Linked DNA regions of Homo sapiens: region 2 is linked to region 1. Evidence: fine-mapped expression QTL. A gene starts in region 1. The other region holds a variant in brackets. All regions are shown on one strand. Distances are from middle to middle.

Region 1 (8,329 bases):
CAGCTGTCGGGACTCACTACTCCCCACCACAAGGCTCAGGAGTGGAGAGGAGCTTTTGGCCCCTTCAATGTCTCTCTCACATATGGGTGCCAGATGTCCAAATTTGAGGGCATAGAAGAACAATCTGGAGTTATTCTTTTTGTCATTTCATTTGGTTATGTGGAATCCAGGGCCCATCATGAATGACTCAGACTTAATAGGTCTACAGTAGGATCCAAGAATCTGCATTTTAAAAAAGCACTTCATAGGCTGGGCGCAGTGGCTCACACCTGTAATCCCAGCACTTTGGAAGGCCAAAGCAGGTGGATCACCAGAGCTGGGGAGTTTGAGACGAGCCCGGGCAACACGTTGAAATCCTGTCTCTACTAAATACAAAAATTAGCCCGGCACAGTGGCGTGTGCCTGTAGTCACAGCTGCTCAGGAGGCTGAGACAGGAGAACTGCTTGAGCCTGGGAGGTGGAGGTTGCAGTGAGCAGAGGTGGCGCCACTACACTCCATCCTGGGCAACAGTGCGAGAGAACCTTGTCTCAAAAAAAATAAAAATAAAAATTAAAATTAAAAAGCACTTAGTGCTGGGTCTGAGGCTCTTTGGAAAACAATGTCCATTTTTGCAAAGTGCCTCTTCTCTCACCCTTCCTCATCTGTGTGTGTCTCATGCCTTTCTGCATTTACTCCTGCTTTTTCCAAACAAAACGCTTTATAGTAATCTCTTCCAATCCTAACCATGCTTCAAGAGCCAGCTGAAATGCCACCCATTTCTAGAAGCCCAAAAGGGACTTCCTGCTTTCCTGCACCCTTGTGCCATTTCCAAGTCAAGAGAATAAAAGGTGTTTCATTTCATTAAACAGCCATTTCATTGTGCAAATCTCATCTCTTACTGGGCAGTAAACTCCTTAGGGACTGACTAAAGCTCATGTTTTTAACTCCCATAATAAAGCACCTACATTGTGTGAGACATTCTGTAAAGATCTGGAATGAGTGAACAAGCAATGAATGAATCAATGCAGGCATGTTTCTTCCAACAAGCTGCTGAAGCTAAAAATGCATGAACAGGAAAATTGTCTAGACTTTATAGTAACTGCCTACAAAAGTTTAAGTACCATAAAGTCCTTCAATTTCCTTATCTGTAAAACTAGGGGGTTTCAGGGGATTTCTTAAAAGAAGTTCATTAAACACTTTCTTGGGTCAAAAGCCCAACATTCCAATCTGACCTGATATTATTACTCAGATAACAGTAATTACTCAGATAACACAGCCATCTATGTTTTACACAAGCTAACAGTATTCCCATGAGGAGGTACCTACTAACCCTGCCTCTGAGACTTTGAGGGAATTTAAGATATAAGCTGGTACAGAAGACATCACCTGGTTTTCTTTTACTTTTCCTACCTCAAACCTCTAACAATGTTGTTCTTAAAATTTCCAGCAAGAAAAAAGTTATCAGGCAATATACTCATTCTGGCAGTTATTTCACAATGTACCACATTCCTACGAAATTGGGGGTGGGGGTGGGGAATCTAACTGTCAAGTTCACTCTAAGGAACAATATAGTTCAGAATCTCCAGCAACCAATTCAACATCCTAATTTTAAAATGACTAAGTTGGGCATGGTGGCTTCCACCTGCAAATCTCAACTGCTCCAGAGTCTGAGGATAACTCGAGGCCAGGAGTTTGATACTAGATTGGGAAATACCTAAATATCTGCCAACAATGCGAATAGTTTAAAGTCTTGGCTTCAATCACATTCCAGATGACCATTTTTAAAATATATACATTTTTTAAAATTTTTATTAATTTTGTTTTGAGACGGAGTTTTACTCTTGTCACCCAGGCTGGAGTGCAATGGTGCGATCTCGGCTCACTGCAACACTCCGCCTCCCAGGTTCAAGTGATTCTCCTGCCTCAGCCTCCAGAGTAGCTGGGATTACAGGCGAGTGCCACCACGCCCAAGCCCATTGGCCAGGATGGTCACGAACTCCTGACCTCGGGTGATCTACCCGCCTCCGCCTCCCACAGTGCTGGATTACAGGCGTGAGCCACCGCGCCCGGCCTATTTTTTTAAATTTTATAGGCCGGGGGGGCGGTGGCTCACGCCTGTAATCCCAGCACTTTGGGAGGCCAAAGCGGGAGGTTCACCTGAGCTAGGGAGTTCGAGGCCAGCCTGACCAACATGGAGAAACCCCATCTCTACTAAAAATACAAAAATCAGCCTGGCGCGGTGGCGCATGCCTGTAATCCCAGCTTCTCGGGAGGTTGAGGCAGGAGAATCGCTTGAACCCGGGAGGCAGAGGTTGCGGTGAGCCGAGATCGCGCCATTGCACTCCAGCCTGGGAAATAAGAGCAAAACTCCGTCTCAAAAAAAAAAAAAAAAAAAGTTATGTATTGCCTAGTTTTGAAAGAAAAAATTTATCAATTTTTAAAGTATAATTAATTTGTATGTAATTTGTGGCCATGGTAATGTGTGCCCAGGCAGAAACAGAGGTAGCAAAAAAGGAAAACTCAGGGTAGTTATTATGATGTATGAAAACAGCTCTTGGTGAAACTAAGGCCTCACTTTTACAAGATCTTAGATACACAGGACAAAAAATGATGTTAACTATAAAGAGTGGAAGCCTCCAAAAAAAAAAAATCCAAAGAAACGTAAAATGGCCGAGCGCGGTGGCTCACGCCTGTGATCCCAGCACTCTGGGAGGCTGAGGCGGGTGGATCACGAGGTCAGGAGTTCAAGACCAGCCTGGCCAAAATGGTGAAACCCCCGTCTCTACTAAATATACAAAAGTTAGCTAGGCGTGGTGACTGGCGCCTGTAATCCCAGCTACTCGGGAGGCTGAGGCAGGAGAATCGCTTGAACCCGGGAGCGGGAGGTTGCGGTAAGCCGATATCGTGCCACTGGACTCCAGCCTGGGTGACACAGTGAGACTCCATCTCAAAAAAAAAAAAAAAAAAAAAAAAAAAAAACAACGTAAAACGAATCAATGTGTTATTATCACGACTTAAAAAAAAAACTTAATATCTAGACCATGAAAGCTATATAAGCAAATAAGCATCATTTAGATTTTTTTTTCCATAAAAATTTCCGTTAAGTCGTGCAATAAAAAATGTAACCAACATAGTAACTCGCGGCCTCGGAAGGGGGAAATTTAACGGTCAAGAACAAGAAATTCTGAAAGCATGGCCTCTAAGGGTCAAGCGGGAACCTGAATACAGTCTCCCAGTTCTTACTAGCTTTGATGCAAGCCCCAGGCAAGTCGGGGAACAGGGAAAGAGGAAAAAGGGAACGCAGAAGGTTGCTCCGGTAAAGGACCCACTTTCAGGCCAGACTCCACGACCGGCAGCCCCGGGCTTCTCATTCATTCCGCGCGGTCTCCAGGTGGCGGCCGCGCGTTGGCGGCCGTGGCGTTCTCCGCCCGGAACTGGGGTGCACTCACCTGTTCGGGAACACGACCTCGCGGCGCCCGAGGCCGCCGAGGCCGCCGCCAGCAGCCGGGGGGATGCGGGCCTGGGAACAGCAGCCGGCGGGGACAACGGGCGGCGCAGCCCTGGGGCGGGCAGGCGGCGCAGGCCGGGCGCGTCCCTCTGCAGCAGGGCCGAGCAGAGCCGCCGCGGACTATGAAACATGCCGGGCGCCGCCGCCACCACGGCCCCTCGCGCGCCCGAGGAGCGGAGCCCGGCTGGGGCCGAGGGCACCGAGTCGAGCCGACTGTCCGGGCAGTGTGGGCGGATGCTCCCAGGCTCCTTCTCGCGCGGCGCAGGTTCTGGGGAAATCCCGGGCAGCAGAGCCGGAGAGGGAGGTGCAACACCGCTGCGTCGGCACCGTCTGCTGTGAGACCTGGCGAGACCTGCAGGGCGCCCGGCGAGCGCTGCGCGCTGACAAAGCGGGCGCTACCAAGCGGGAGCTGGAGGGGAATCCGCGGGACCCGGCCACTGCGCGGCCACGCCAGGCTCCCTCGACCCGGCGTAATCCTGTTTTAAAAGGAAGCGGGGCTTAGGCTGATTTATAGATAGAATCCGCAGGCGGTCTAAAATAAGAGGTATCCGTTGGAGCTGTTCTGAAGAAAAAAGCGTCCCCTTCCGCTGGCCAGCATGGAAGCGCCCACAGGCTGGGAATCCCGAGACAGTTCCAGGGCTGTGGCCCAGGGGACACGTGTCTGTCAGAGTGGCAGACGGCCTACGTGTGTGCCTGCGCGGGTCTGTGTGGATACAGCAAAAGGCGTCCGCCTCCGACCCCCTCGGCAGTGTGTGATGCGTTAAACGATATTAAGCACAATAAAGCACCGCCTGTGGGCGAGGCGACGATGATTAAAACAGCGTTCTTTTCCTCAAAAGTGTTATACTTAGGCAAAGGGAGCAGAAGGTGGCAAGGGAAGTCAGACCAGAAAGCTCTACAAGGTAGAATGAGATTATTGCCACAAGATGCCAAAGATTGGCTATAGAGATGACAACAGGCCCGGGCTCTCTAGAAGGTTCATTAGAAGGATTGGCATTTGAGTTGGCCTATGACGTGGAGGTCTAGAATTTACCCACGTGAAACTTTGGAGGGGGTGGTGGTGAGTTATAAATGAAAAAAGTAAATAAGGGTGTATTTGGGGAAACAACTCTTAGTCATGTAAGATGGAAGCTAAGGAGTAAGAGGACAGATGCGTGGATAGGTTGTAGTGTGGAAGGAAGGGGATTATAGTAGGCTTAATTCGGTGGATAGCTGCGAGCCGTTGACGTTTTGTAAGCTGAGCAAAGACATGGTCAGGGCTGTGCTTTAATTGGAAATCACATGTCTCTGGTTCATGAAAAGGCAGAAAGGAAATCAGCTGAGATAACAGATACTGTAGACCCGCACCAGGTTACTGTTACTGGAAAAGAAAGGATGGAAGAAACATCTCAGACAGGCTGGGCAGGAAATGATGACTAATCAGGAATAGAAATGGGATGAGGGGGAGGGAAAACCCAAGACTGGATTTTTCTCTGAATGATTCATGAGTTAGAAATGTATTCTATTGGTTTTCCCATGATTTTGCTGATTCCCCTGTGTTGTGGAATTGCAAGCTTTTCATCACAAGAATATTCTAAATATTTTTCAGACCTAGGTTACATATCTAACACCTGTGGATAGAGGGTGTGGACAGATCAGCTGGCACAAGTTGATTACAACTTCTGGCAGACAAGCTCCTTGGAAGTCATTAAAGCCTCAGTTTCAGTTTCCTTATCTATAAAACATAGAATCATACCTTAGTCATTAGGTGAAATAAAAAATGATAATAAGCTACTCTGGGCACACTGTCTATCGAGTAGTCCTGCTCCACAAGGAGCAGTACTTGTAAAAAGAATTTTTTTAAAAAGGTGATAATAAAATTAGCCTATGAAAAGTGTTTTGCAAATATAGCAAAATGTTGATTTTGAATCTAGGTAGTGGGTATATATGGGTATAGGGACCATGGGAAAAATGTTCCCTTTGCCCTCTGAAGTTTGCTGAAAAATCAACTCACAAAAGGCAGATTAATGGGAGAAAAGGCATATGCATTTATTAACATGTACATGGGGAGAATCACAGAGTGATTACACACCCCCAACGGGGTTCAGAAGCTTGTCTACCATCCTGGCCAACAGACTTGGGGAGAGGGGAGCAGAGGCATTCTGTTGAGGAGATGACTAGGGAAAGTGAATGGATCAGGGCACAGGGATGAACTTGCACATTATCTTGTGAAAGGGTCTGTTCAGGTGGTTACATTTTTGGTCTTACAAGGAGGGGAAGAAAAAACAATTGTTCCTTTTGGTGGGTTCGGATTGTAGCCAGATAAAGGAACTTCAACTTCATCCTGTGCTTTGGGAGAGATGGTGCTGGGCAGTGAGGTCAGAGAGACCTTGAGGCTTCCATTCAGCCGGTCAAAGCCCCATATTTTGGGCTATCAGTTTCTGAGTCCCGACACAAGTGTTCACTTACAATTATTTTTCCCCCATATATTTGGAGATTTTCATAATAAAATGTTGGGGAAAAGTGCTTTGAAAAATGAAAAAATAACTGTTCAAATATAAACTGTCACTATTTAAAGAGATTCAAAGAGCATGCTATCCTGAAAGTGCATCATATTATTTATTTTTTTTTTATTTATTTATTTGAGATGGAGTCTGTCGCTCTGTTGCCCAGGCTGGAGTACAGTGGCGTCATCTTGGCTCCCTGCAACCTCCGCCTCCCGGGTTCCAGCCATTCTCCTGCCTCAGCCTCTGGAGTAGCTCTGACTACAGGCGCACACCACCACGCCTGGCTAATTTTTGTATTTTTTAGTAGAGACAAGGTTTCATCATATTGTCCAGGCTGGTCTCAAACTCCTGACCTCAGGTGATCCCCTCGCCTCAGTCTCCCAAAGTGCTGGGATTACAGGCATGAGCCACCACGCTCGGCCTGAATCATATTTTTTATAATATATTAAACACTAAGCAATCAGAAAGATAGAAATTAAAACTTATTCCCTTGAAAATTTATTCAGTAAACATTTGTTGAATACACATTATGTGCCAGGCTCTATATTAGAGCATACAAAAATAAATTGAACAAAATCTATTGACAGTTTAGGGGGTAAGACATTGTATAAACAAAAATACTTGTAATTATCTGCTAATAAGTACAGAATCACTTATGGACAAAGTATTGTGGGACCAGAGAAGAGGAAATGTTACTGGAAAGGGGTCCCAATCCAGACCCCAAAAGAGGGTTCTTGAATATTACACAAGAAAGAATTCAGGACGAGCTCATAAAGTGAAACCAAATTTATTAGAGAAGTAAAGAAATAAAAGAATGGTTACTCCATAGGCAGAGCAGCACTGAGGGCTGCTTATGGCTTTTTCTTTTTCTTTTTTTTTTTTTTAATTGAGATGAAGTCTCGCTCTGTCACCCAGGCTGGAGTGCAACGGCACGATCTCGGCTCACTGCAACCTCCACCTCCCAGGTTCAAGTGATTCTCCTGCTGAGCCCACAGAGTAGCTGGGATTACAGATGCGTGCCACCTCACCCAGGTAATTTTTTTATTTCTATTTTTAGTAGAGATGGGGTTTCGCCATGTAGGCCAGGCTGGTCTCAAACTCATGATCTCAAGTGATCCACCTGCCTCCCAAAGTGCTGGGATTACAGGCGTGAGCCACTGCGCCCGGCCTTGTTGGCTATTTTTATGGCTATTTCTTGATTACATGCTAACTAGGGAGAGGGTTATTCGTGAATTTTCCAGGAAAGGGGCAAGGATTTCCCAGGACTGAGGATTTCTCTGCCTTTTAGACTATATAGGGTAACTTCTGGATGTTGCTGTGCCATTTATAAACTGTCACGGCACTGGTGGGAGTGTCTTTTATCATGTTAATGCATTATAATTAGCGTACAATAAACAGTGAGAACAACTAGAGGTCACCTTCATCACCATCTTGGTTGTTGTGGGTTTTGGCTGGTTTCTTTTTTTTTTTGAGATGGAGTCTCGCTCTGTCACCCAGGCTGGAGTGCAATGGCACGGTCTCGGCTCACTGTAACCTCCGCCTCCCGGGTTCCAGCAATTCTCCTGCCTCAGCCTCCCGAGTAGTTAGGCCTACAGGCGCATAGTAGTCCTACGCGCCTGGCTAAATTTGTATTTTTTTTTAGTAGAGACTGGGTTTCTCCATGTTGGCCAGGCTGGTCTTGAACTCCTGGCCTCCCGAGTAGTTAGGACTACAGGCGCGTAGTAGTCCAACACACCTGGCTAAATTTGTATTTTTTTTTAGTAGAGACTGGGTTTCTCCATGTTGGCCAGGCTGGTCTTGAACTCCTGGCCTCGTGATCCGTCTGCTGAGCCAATGCGCCCGGCCGGCTGGTTTCTTTTTCACATCCTGTTTCATCCGCTGAGTCTTTATGATCTATATCTTGTGCTGACCTCCTATCTCATCCTGTGACTAGGAATCCCTAACCTCCTGGCAATGCAGCCCAGTAGGTCTCAGCCTCTATTCAACATAGAGTTGCTCTGGCTCCAACACCTCTGACAGAAATAACTAATTGCCTAGAGAAGTCAGGAGAGGCGTTTTGAACAAAGTGACTACCAAGTGGAAAGGTATCACAGAGGATATCCACAGAGAAGAGAACACTAAGGCGAGGAAAGAAGGCGTGTTCCAGGAACAGCAAGTGCTGCAATCTGATAAGGGTTGAGTGCGGGATGTCCATAGGGAGTGGCCGCAGGTGAGGTGGAAGCTGTGGGCAAGAACCCAAGGTGACGGGTTTGAGAGGAGTTTGGACTTTCATCCTAGAGACCCAGTGAAAGGCTAAACAGACAGTTTGCATTTTTGAAGGATCATTGGATCTTTCTGCCAGCAGTGTTGAAAATG
Region 2 (8,329 bases), 84 kb after region 1:
CATTTATGTTTTGGTGACTTATTAATGCTTGATTGATATATTTCTAGTTCTGATCTCTATCTGTCTATTTATCTAAGCTATAACTTGCAATCATGTTGTGCATATGCATATTATAAACTCCTTGTCTCCTATTTTTCTTTGTAATTAAATATTCTTCTGCAACACTATTTTTAATGGCTGCAAGGTGTTTTGTTATTCGGAAAATTTAAAAAACTAAGTTCCAATGGTTAAACAATCTTGTAGCTATCACTTTTGTATATTTATGATTAGTTTTTAGGATACAAATTATAAGTGGAATTTTTAGGTTAAAGGATGAGAACGTGGTTGCTCTATGTTGCAGATTACCTTCTTATCTTTTAAAGGTCAATTTGCCTTTATTTCTACTAGCAGTGCACAAACATTCCTGGATCTTCTCACTGTTGCCTTAGAAATCTTTTTATAGTGACTTCTGATGCTTTCCTTGTCTGCTTAGTAAAATGCAAACAGGTTTGTTTAACATCAGCCTTAAGATAAATGCCTTAGCACGTTAGTAAAGGAATTTTTATATTAGGTTAAAAGAAGAGCAAATAAACAATAAAAAGTAATAGTATTGCATCTCTGACTCTGCATTTATTCCAACAAGTACAGCTTATTTTTAATTACTGGTGATAAATACTTCATAGTCTACTAATAAACGTCCTGCAGTATATTTTGAAAAAGGCAATAAACGCTTTGTCAGGTGAGAATTCACTATAGTTCTTGGCCTCTAAATCTCTGTTGAAAAGAAGGATAAAACTGCCAGTTTTGCTGGTAAGAATTATTGGAAAGACTGATAAGCAAGTAAGACTTAGCAAGGTTCTGAAATAATTACTGCCATCAGGACAAAATTGGGAAAATAAACCTGCACATTCATGTAGTACTAATATTAGGTCAAGTCAGTGCTTTTTCTTTTTAAACATCAAACATAGTGCTTGGGAGATAAATGAAAAAGTTAAGAATAAATTAGTTTAGGAAGAAACCCCTGGTTGGGGTTGAATTTGCTGAATAGATTAGGGATGAACTTGTATTTTCTCTGTGGTGGGGGGAATTTGAAATACTGTTTTTAGTATAGTTAGCAAAATTGGGGCAAAAAGATTCAACTCAGAAAATATGCAGTTCTAAGTTATGATCCTTATTGGTGCTGACTTTAGAGATACTACTGGGAATCAGGAAGAAATTACTTTTTATTCATTTTGTGAAACGTTCTTACTCTTCTTATTTTCCTAGCACATATTAAAACTTTCAAAATAGAAATAGATTTTTTTTCTGATTTAGAAAAAGGTTATACACTCATTGTAAAAAAAATTACATAGCACAGAAAAGTATAAAGAAAGTAAAAATCACTAAAAGTAACACTACCCAGCAATAACTACTATCAATATTTGAGGAACATCTTTTCAGACAGCTGACACTGTTCTCTCAACAGATGCAGAATTTTATGCAAACGTGTTTGTCTTACATATATTGTTCAGTAACCTCTTTTCTTTTTTTCAGAAATATATGTTGTGGCCACATTTTGAGGTCAATATGTATAGATTACGGCATTAACCTTTTCTGTTTTTGAGATGGAGTCTCACTTTGTCACCCAGGCTGGAGTGCAGTGGTGCAAACATGGCTCACTGGAGCCTGGACCTCCCGGGGTCAAGCCATCTTCCCTTCTCATCCCCTCAAGTAACTGGGACCACAGGCGTGTGCCACCTTGCCTGGCTGTTTTCTGTTTTTTTGTAGAGATAGTTTTACCATGTTGCCCAGGCTGGTCTTGAATTCCTGAGCTCAAGAGATCTGCCTGCTTTGACCTCCCAAAGTGCTGAGATTACGAGCTTGGGGCATGCCCCTGGCCAACATCATCATTTTTAATGGTCACTTAATATTCATTGTACAGATGTGCAGTAAATGTTTTTTTCTTTTTTTTTTTTTTTGAGATGGAGTCTCGCTCTGTCGCCCAGGCTGGAGTGCAGTGGTGCGATCTCGGCTCACTGCGACCTCTGCCTCCTGGGTTCCAGCAATTCTCCTGCCTCAGCCTCCCAAGTAGCTGGGACTACAGGTGCCCACCACCACGCCCGGCTAATTTTTTGTATTTTTAGTAGAGACGGGGTTTCACCATGTTAGCCAGGATGGTCTTGATCTCCTGACCTCGTGATCTGCCCATCTTGGCCTCCCAAAGTGCTGGGATTACAGGCATGAGCCACCGTGCCCGGTCAATGTGCAGTAAATGATTTTATCTTAATGTGATTTTTTAAAACAAATTATCAGAAAGACATGCTCTGAAATGTTTTTTTCCTAAACATTGCAGAAGGCATGAAGTGAAAAGTCATCTCATTTATTCATTCTTGTCCCCAATTAATTCTACCTCCCAAAGGTAACTTTATGATCTCCCTAGGATGAGACAGGACTAGTAAAAAAAAAAAAATGTACACACATATTTTCCCAGATGCGATCATTTTATCTTCTATAATTTGCTTTAAAAAGTTTTACACTGTATTGTGTACATTTTCCAGGTCAGTGGATATAAAGTGAATTTCATGCGCATCCGTGTGAAGAGACCACCAAACAGGCTTTGTGTGAGCAATAAAGCTGTTTATTTCACCTGGGTGCAGGTGGGCTGAGTCCGAAAAGAGAGTCAGCGAAGGGAGATGGGGTGGGGCTGTTTTATAGGATTTGGGTAGGTAAAGGAAAAAGGGGGGTTGTTCTCTGGTGGGCAGGAGTGGGGGGTCACAAGGAACTCAGTGGGGGAGCTTTTGAGCCAGGATGAGCCAGGAGAAGGAATTTCACAAGACAATGTCATCAGTTAAAGCAGGAACAGGCCATTTTCACTTCTTTTGTGGTGGAATGTCATCAGTTAAGGCAGGAACTGGTCATCTGGATGTGTACGTGCAGGTCACAGGGGATATGATGGCTTAGCTTGGGCTCAGAGGCCTGACATTCCTGTCTTCTTATATTAATAAGAAAAATAAAATGAAATAGTGGTAAAGTGTTTGGACAGCGAAAATTTTGGGGGATGGTATGGAGAGATAATGGGCGATGTTTCTCAGGGCTACTTCGAGCAGGATTAGGGGTGGCGTGGGAACCTAGAGTGGGAGAGATTAAGCTGAAGGGAGATCTTGTGGTAAGGGGTGATATTGTGGGGTTGTTAGAAGAAACACTTGTCATGTAGAATTATTGGTGATGGCCTGGATACGGTTTTGTATGAATTGAAAAAGTAAATGGAATAAGAGGAGAAAAGCAGGTATTAAAGGACTAAGAATTGGGAGGACCTAGGACATATAATTAGAGTGCCTTAGGAGATTCATCATAGTCCTGCCAGCAAAAATTATTTATTTACTTCAAGAGTTAAGAGCGGTGGTTTGGGGATAACACCAGGAGATATCAGCTGTGCTGGCTTGGAGAAACAGTGTAAACTGGCAGTGTAAACAAGAGCAGGGCATGTATGAGTAGTTGAGAACGGTGAATAGAAGTAGGACTAGACAGAAGACAGTAGGGATGACAAGTTTTTGGGGCACAGTCCAAGTTGGTCTAGTGTCTGGAATGAGACTGGGGCCTAATAAAAAGGAGCTCAAGTGGGCTGTACCTTGTAGCATTCCGAGGACAGGCCTTAATTCTGAGAAGCGAAAGTGGTAAAAGTATTGTCCAGTCCTTTTTAAGTTGGTGGCTGAGCTTGGTGAGGTGTGTTTTTAAAAGACCATTAGTCTGTTCTACTTTTCCTGAAGACTGAGGACTGTAAGGGATATAAAGGTTTCACTGAATACTAACACCTGAAAAACTGCTTGGCTGATTTGACTAATAAAGGCTGATCTGTTATCAGACTGTATAGAGGTGGGAAGGCTAAACTGAGGAATTATGTCTGACAGAAGGGAAGAAATGACTGTGGTGGCCTTCTCAGACCCTGTAGGAAAGGACTCTACCTATCCAGTGTAAGTGTCTACCTAGACTAAGAGGTATTTTAGTTATCTGACTCGGGGCATGTTGAGTAAAGCTAATTTGCCAGTCCTGGGTGGGGGCAAATCCTCGAGCTTGAAGTGTAGGGAAGGGAGGGGGGCCTGAATAATCCTTGAGGAGTAGTAGAATAGCAGATGGAACACTGAGAAGTTATTTCCTTGAGGATAGATTTCCACGATGGAAAGGAAATGAGAGGTTTTAAGAGGCGGGCTAGTGACTTGTACTATAGCATAGCCTGCCTTTGCTGGTGTGTGGCGATTAGGCCTGGTGGAACTGCCATCAATAAACTAAGTGCGATCAGGGTGAGAAACAGGGAAGAAGGAAATGCGGGGAAATGGGGTGAACGTCAGGTGGATCAGAGAGATGCAGTCATGAGGGCCAGGTGTGGTATCAGGAATAATGTGGGAGGCCGGATTGAAGTCCCGGCCAGGAACAATGGTAATTGTGGAACTTAACAAAGAGTGAGTACAGCTGAAGGAGCTGGGGAGCAGAAAGTATATGCGTCAGGTATGAGGAAGAAAATAGATTTTGGAAGTTATGAGAAATGTAGAGAGTAAGTTGAGCATAGTTTGTGATTTTGAGGGCCTCTAAAAGTATTAGGGCGGCAGCAGCCGCTGCACTGAGATATGATGGCTAGGCTAAAACAGTAAGGTCAAGTTGTTTGGACAGAAAGGCTACAGGGTG[C/T]AGTCCTGGCTCTTGTGTAAGAATTCTGACCGCACTAACTGTGCCTAGGAAGGAAAGGAGTTGTTGTTTTGTAAGGGATTGAGGTTTGGGCGATTAGTCGGACACGATCAGCAGGCAGAGCACATGTGTTTTTATGAGAATTATGCCGAGATAGGTAACAGATGAGGATGAAATTTGGGCTTGACTGAAGTAATGGGGGCTGTCTGTGAAGCCTTGCGGCAGTACAGCCCAGGTAATTTGCTGAGCCTAATGGGCGTCAGGGTCAGTCCAAGTGAAAGCAAAGAGAGGCTGGGATAAAGGGTGCAGAGGAATAGTAAAGAAAGCATATTTGAGATCCAGAACAGAATAATGGGTTGTAGAGGGAGGTATTGAGGATAGGAGAGTATATGGGTTTGGCACCACGGGGTGGATAGGCAAAACAATTTGGTTGATAAGGCGCAGATCCTGAAGTAACCTGTAAGTCTTGTCTGGTTCTAGGACAGGTAAAATGGGGGAATTGTAAGGAGAGTTTATAGGCTTTAAAAGGCCATGCTGTAGCAGGTGATTGATAATAGGCTTTAATCCTTTTAAAGCATGCTGTGGGATGGGATATTGGCATTGAGCGGGGTAGGGGTGATTAGGTTTTAATGAGATGGTAAGGGGTGCATGATGGGTCACCAAGGAGGGAGTAGAGGTATCTTATACTTGTGGGTTAAAGTTGGGGGATACAAGAGGAGGACGCAAAGGAGGCTTTGGATTGGGAAGAAGGGCGGCAATGAGATGCAGCTGTAGTCCAGGAATAGTCAGGGAAGCAGATAATTTAGTTAAAGTGTCTCGGCCTAATAAGGGAACTGGGCAGGTGGGGATAACTAAAAAGGAGTGCTTAAAAGAGTGTTGTCTAAGTTGGCACCAGAGTTGGGGAGTTTTAAGAGGTTTAGAAGCCTGGCTGTCAATACCCACAACAGTTATGGAGGCAAGGGAAACCGGCCCTTGAAAATAAGGTAATGTGGAGTGAGTAGCCTCCGTATTAAGAAGGGGAAGTACTTACCCTCCACTGTGAGAGTTACCCAAAGCTCGGCGTCCGTGATGATCTAGGGGGCTTCTGAGGTGATCAGGCAGCGTCAGTCTTCAGCTGCTAAGCCAAGAAGATCTGGGAAGGAGTCAGAGAGCCTTGGGCCAGAGTTCCAGGGGCTCTGGGAGTGGCTGCCAGGTGAGTTGGACAGTCCAATTTCCAGTGGGGTCCTGCACAGATGGGAAGCGGCTTAGGAGGAATCCTGGGCTGCAGGCATTCCTTGGCCTGGTGGCCAGATTTCTGGCACTTGTAGCAAGCTACTGGGGGAGGAGGTTCTGGAGGAACGCCTGGCTGCTGCGGTTCAGGTGTTTGGAAGTTCTTGTGTGCTGGAGATGTGGCTGGGGTTTGTCTCACAGTGGAGGCAAGGAATTGCAACTGTTTTCTATTATTGTACACCTTGAAGGTGAGGCTAATTAAATCCTGTTGTGGGGTTTGAGGGCCGGAATTTAATTTTTGGAGTTTTATTTAATGTCAGGAGCAGATTGGGTAATAAAACGTATTTTGAGAATAAGACGGCCTTTTGACCTTTTAGGGTCTAGGGCTGTAAACTGTCTCAGGGTTGTTGCCAAAGGAGTCATGAACTGGGCTGGATTTTTATATTTGATGAAAAAGAGCCTAAACGCTATCTGATTTGGGATAAAGAAAAAGGAGCATTAACCTTGACTATGCCTTTAGCTCCAGCCACCTTTTTAAGAGTAAATTGCTGGGCAGGTCGGGGGGTGGCTAGTCAAATGAAACTGTAAGCCGGACCGGGTATGAGGAGGGGAGGTGATAAAAGGATTATAGGGTGGAGGAGCAGAGGCTGAGGAAGAATTGGGACCTAGCTCCGCCTGGCGAGGAGCAGCCTGGGGAGGAGGGGAGGTCAGATGGGTCTGTAGAAAAGGAAGATTAGAAAGACTCAGCGATGCTTGGGGTTGGGACTGAGGGGGGCAGGTGGGAGGGAAAGAAGGAAGATTTGGGACGAGTTGCATTGGGCACAGAGACTAGGAAGGGACCGATGTGTAAAAGAATGCCTGGACGTCAGGCACCTCAGACTGTTTGCCTACTTTACGATAAGAATTATTTAGATCTTGCAGGATGGAAAAATTCAAAGTGCCGTTTTCTGGCTATTTGGAACTACTGTCGAGTTTGTATTGGGGTCAAGTGGCAATGCAGAAGAAAATAAGATGCTTAGATTTTAGGTCAAGTGAGAGTTGAAGCGGTTTTAAGTTCTTAAGAACACAGGCTAAGGGAAAAGAAGGAGGAATGGAGGGTGGAAGGTTGCCCATAGTGAAGGAGGCAAGCCCAGAGAAAAGAGAGTAGAGACACGGGGGGAAGGGGTTCAGGGGTTCTTACCCTCCAGAAAAGTGGGAAAGGGGTCGGGGCACAGAAATACGAGGTCAGGGCATGGACATAAGGGATTGGGGTGCAGAGAATATAAGAGGTTGGGGTGCGGAAATAAGGGATCAGGGCAAAGAGATATAAGGGGTCGGGGCATGGAAATAAGGGATTGGGGCACAGAGATAAGAGGTCGGGGTGCAGAAATAAGGGATTGGGACACAGAGATATGAGGTTGGGGTACTTGCCCCTCCCCCAGAAAAGCAGGACTTGCTGCTAAGGGTGAAGGAGAAGGGGTTGGGGGTTTCTTGCCCCCCCAGAAAGGTGGAGAAGGGGTAGAGACACGGAGAGAAGGGGTTGGGGTACTTGCCCCTTCCCCAGAAAAGCGGGACTTGCCGCTAAGGGTGAAGGACCAAGGCAGGTGTCCCTGCGTGGTCTGACACCTCTGAAACCTGGGTGAATAATCAGAGAGGCGTCCCTGCAATGATTAAACACCAAGGGAAGGCTGCCTTCCCTAGTCCGTGACCGGCACCGGAGTTTTGGGTCCACAGATAAAACCTGTCTCCTTTGTCTCTGCCAGAAAATGAAAGGAATTGAAATTAAGAGAAGGGAGAGATTGAAGAGTGGAAAGGAGAAAGTGGTTGAGGGATAGTGAGAGAGGTTGGAGAAGAGAGTAAGAAGAGGCCGCTTACCTGATTTAAAATTGGTGAGATGTTTCTTGGGCTGGTTGGTCTGAGGACCTGAGGTCGTAGGTGGATCTTTCTCACCAAGCAAAGAACAGGAGGACAGAGGATTGATCTCCCAAGGGAGGTCCCCCGATCCGAGTCACGGCACCAAATTTCATGCACGTCTGTGTGAAAAGACCACCAAGCAGGATTTGTGTGAGCAATAAAGCTGTTTACTTCACCTGGGTGCAGGTGGGCTGAGTCCGAAAAGAGAGTCAGTGAAGGGAGATAGGGGTGGGGCCGTTTTATAGGATTTGGGTAGGTAAAGGAAAAAGGGGGGTTCTCTGGCGGGCAGGAGTGGGGGGTCACAAGGTACTCAGTGGGGGAGCTTTTGAGCCAGGATGAGCCAGGAGAAGGAATTTCACAAGACAATGTCATCAGTTAAAGCAGGAACAGGCCATTTTCACTTCTTTTGTGGTGGAATGTCATCAGTTAAGGCAGGAACTGGTCATCTGGATGTGTACGTGCAGGTCACAGGGGATATGATGGCTTAGCTTGGGCTCAGAGGCCTGACAGTGATCTAATTCTTTTTTAACAACTGCAAACATAGATGTACTGTGATTGATTTAACGTATACCCTATTGTCTTAGTCTGTTTG

The links. PIP is the estimated chance that this variant, and not a neighbour inherited with it, causes the effect.
Region 2: its variant is the best candidate, but not a certain one, in a credible set for the expression of NOCT in monocytes (TOPMed, PIP 0.63).

What each region holds. Positions count from the first base shown.
Region 1 is chr4:139,011,272-139,019,600 of GRCh38, reverse strand. NOCT (nocturnin) reads right to left here and starts at 3,820. Exons shown (of 3, transcript NM_012118.4): 1 at 3,430-3,820. The coding sequence starts at 3,619. LOC105377448 (a long non-coding RNA gene) reads left to right here and starts at 6,955. Exons shown (of 3, transcript NR_133945.1): 1 at 6,955-7,006. RefSeq lists a silencer at 3,381-3,680 and enhancers at 3,821-4,170, 4,203-5,124, 4,261-5,460.
Region 2 is chr4:138,927,753-138,936,081 of GRCh38, reverse strand. The region is part of intron 2 of LOC105377448 (a long non-coding RNA gene); the gene reads left to right. Among named protein-coding and RNA genes, the nearest start is that of NOCT, 84 kb to the left of the region's middle. RefSeq lists an enhancer at 2,566-3,120. The variant C/T (reference allele first, on the strand shown) is at 4,639.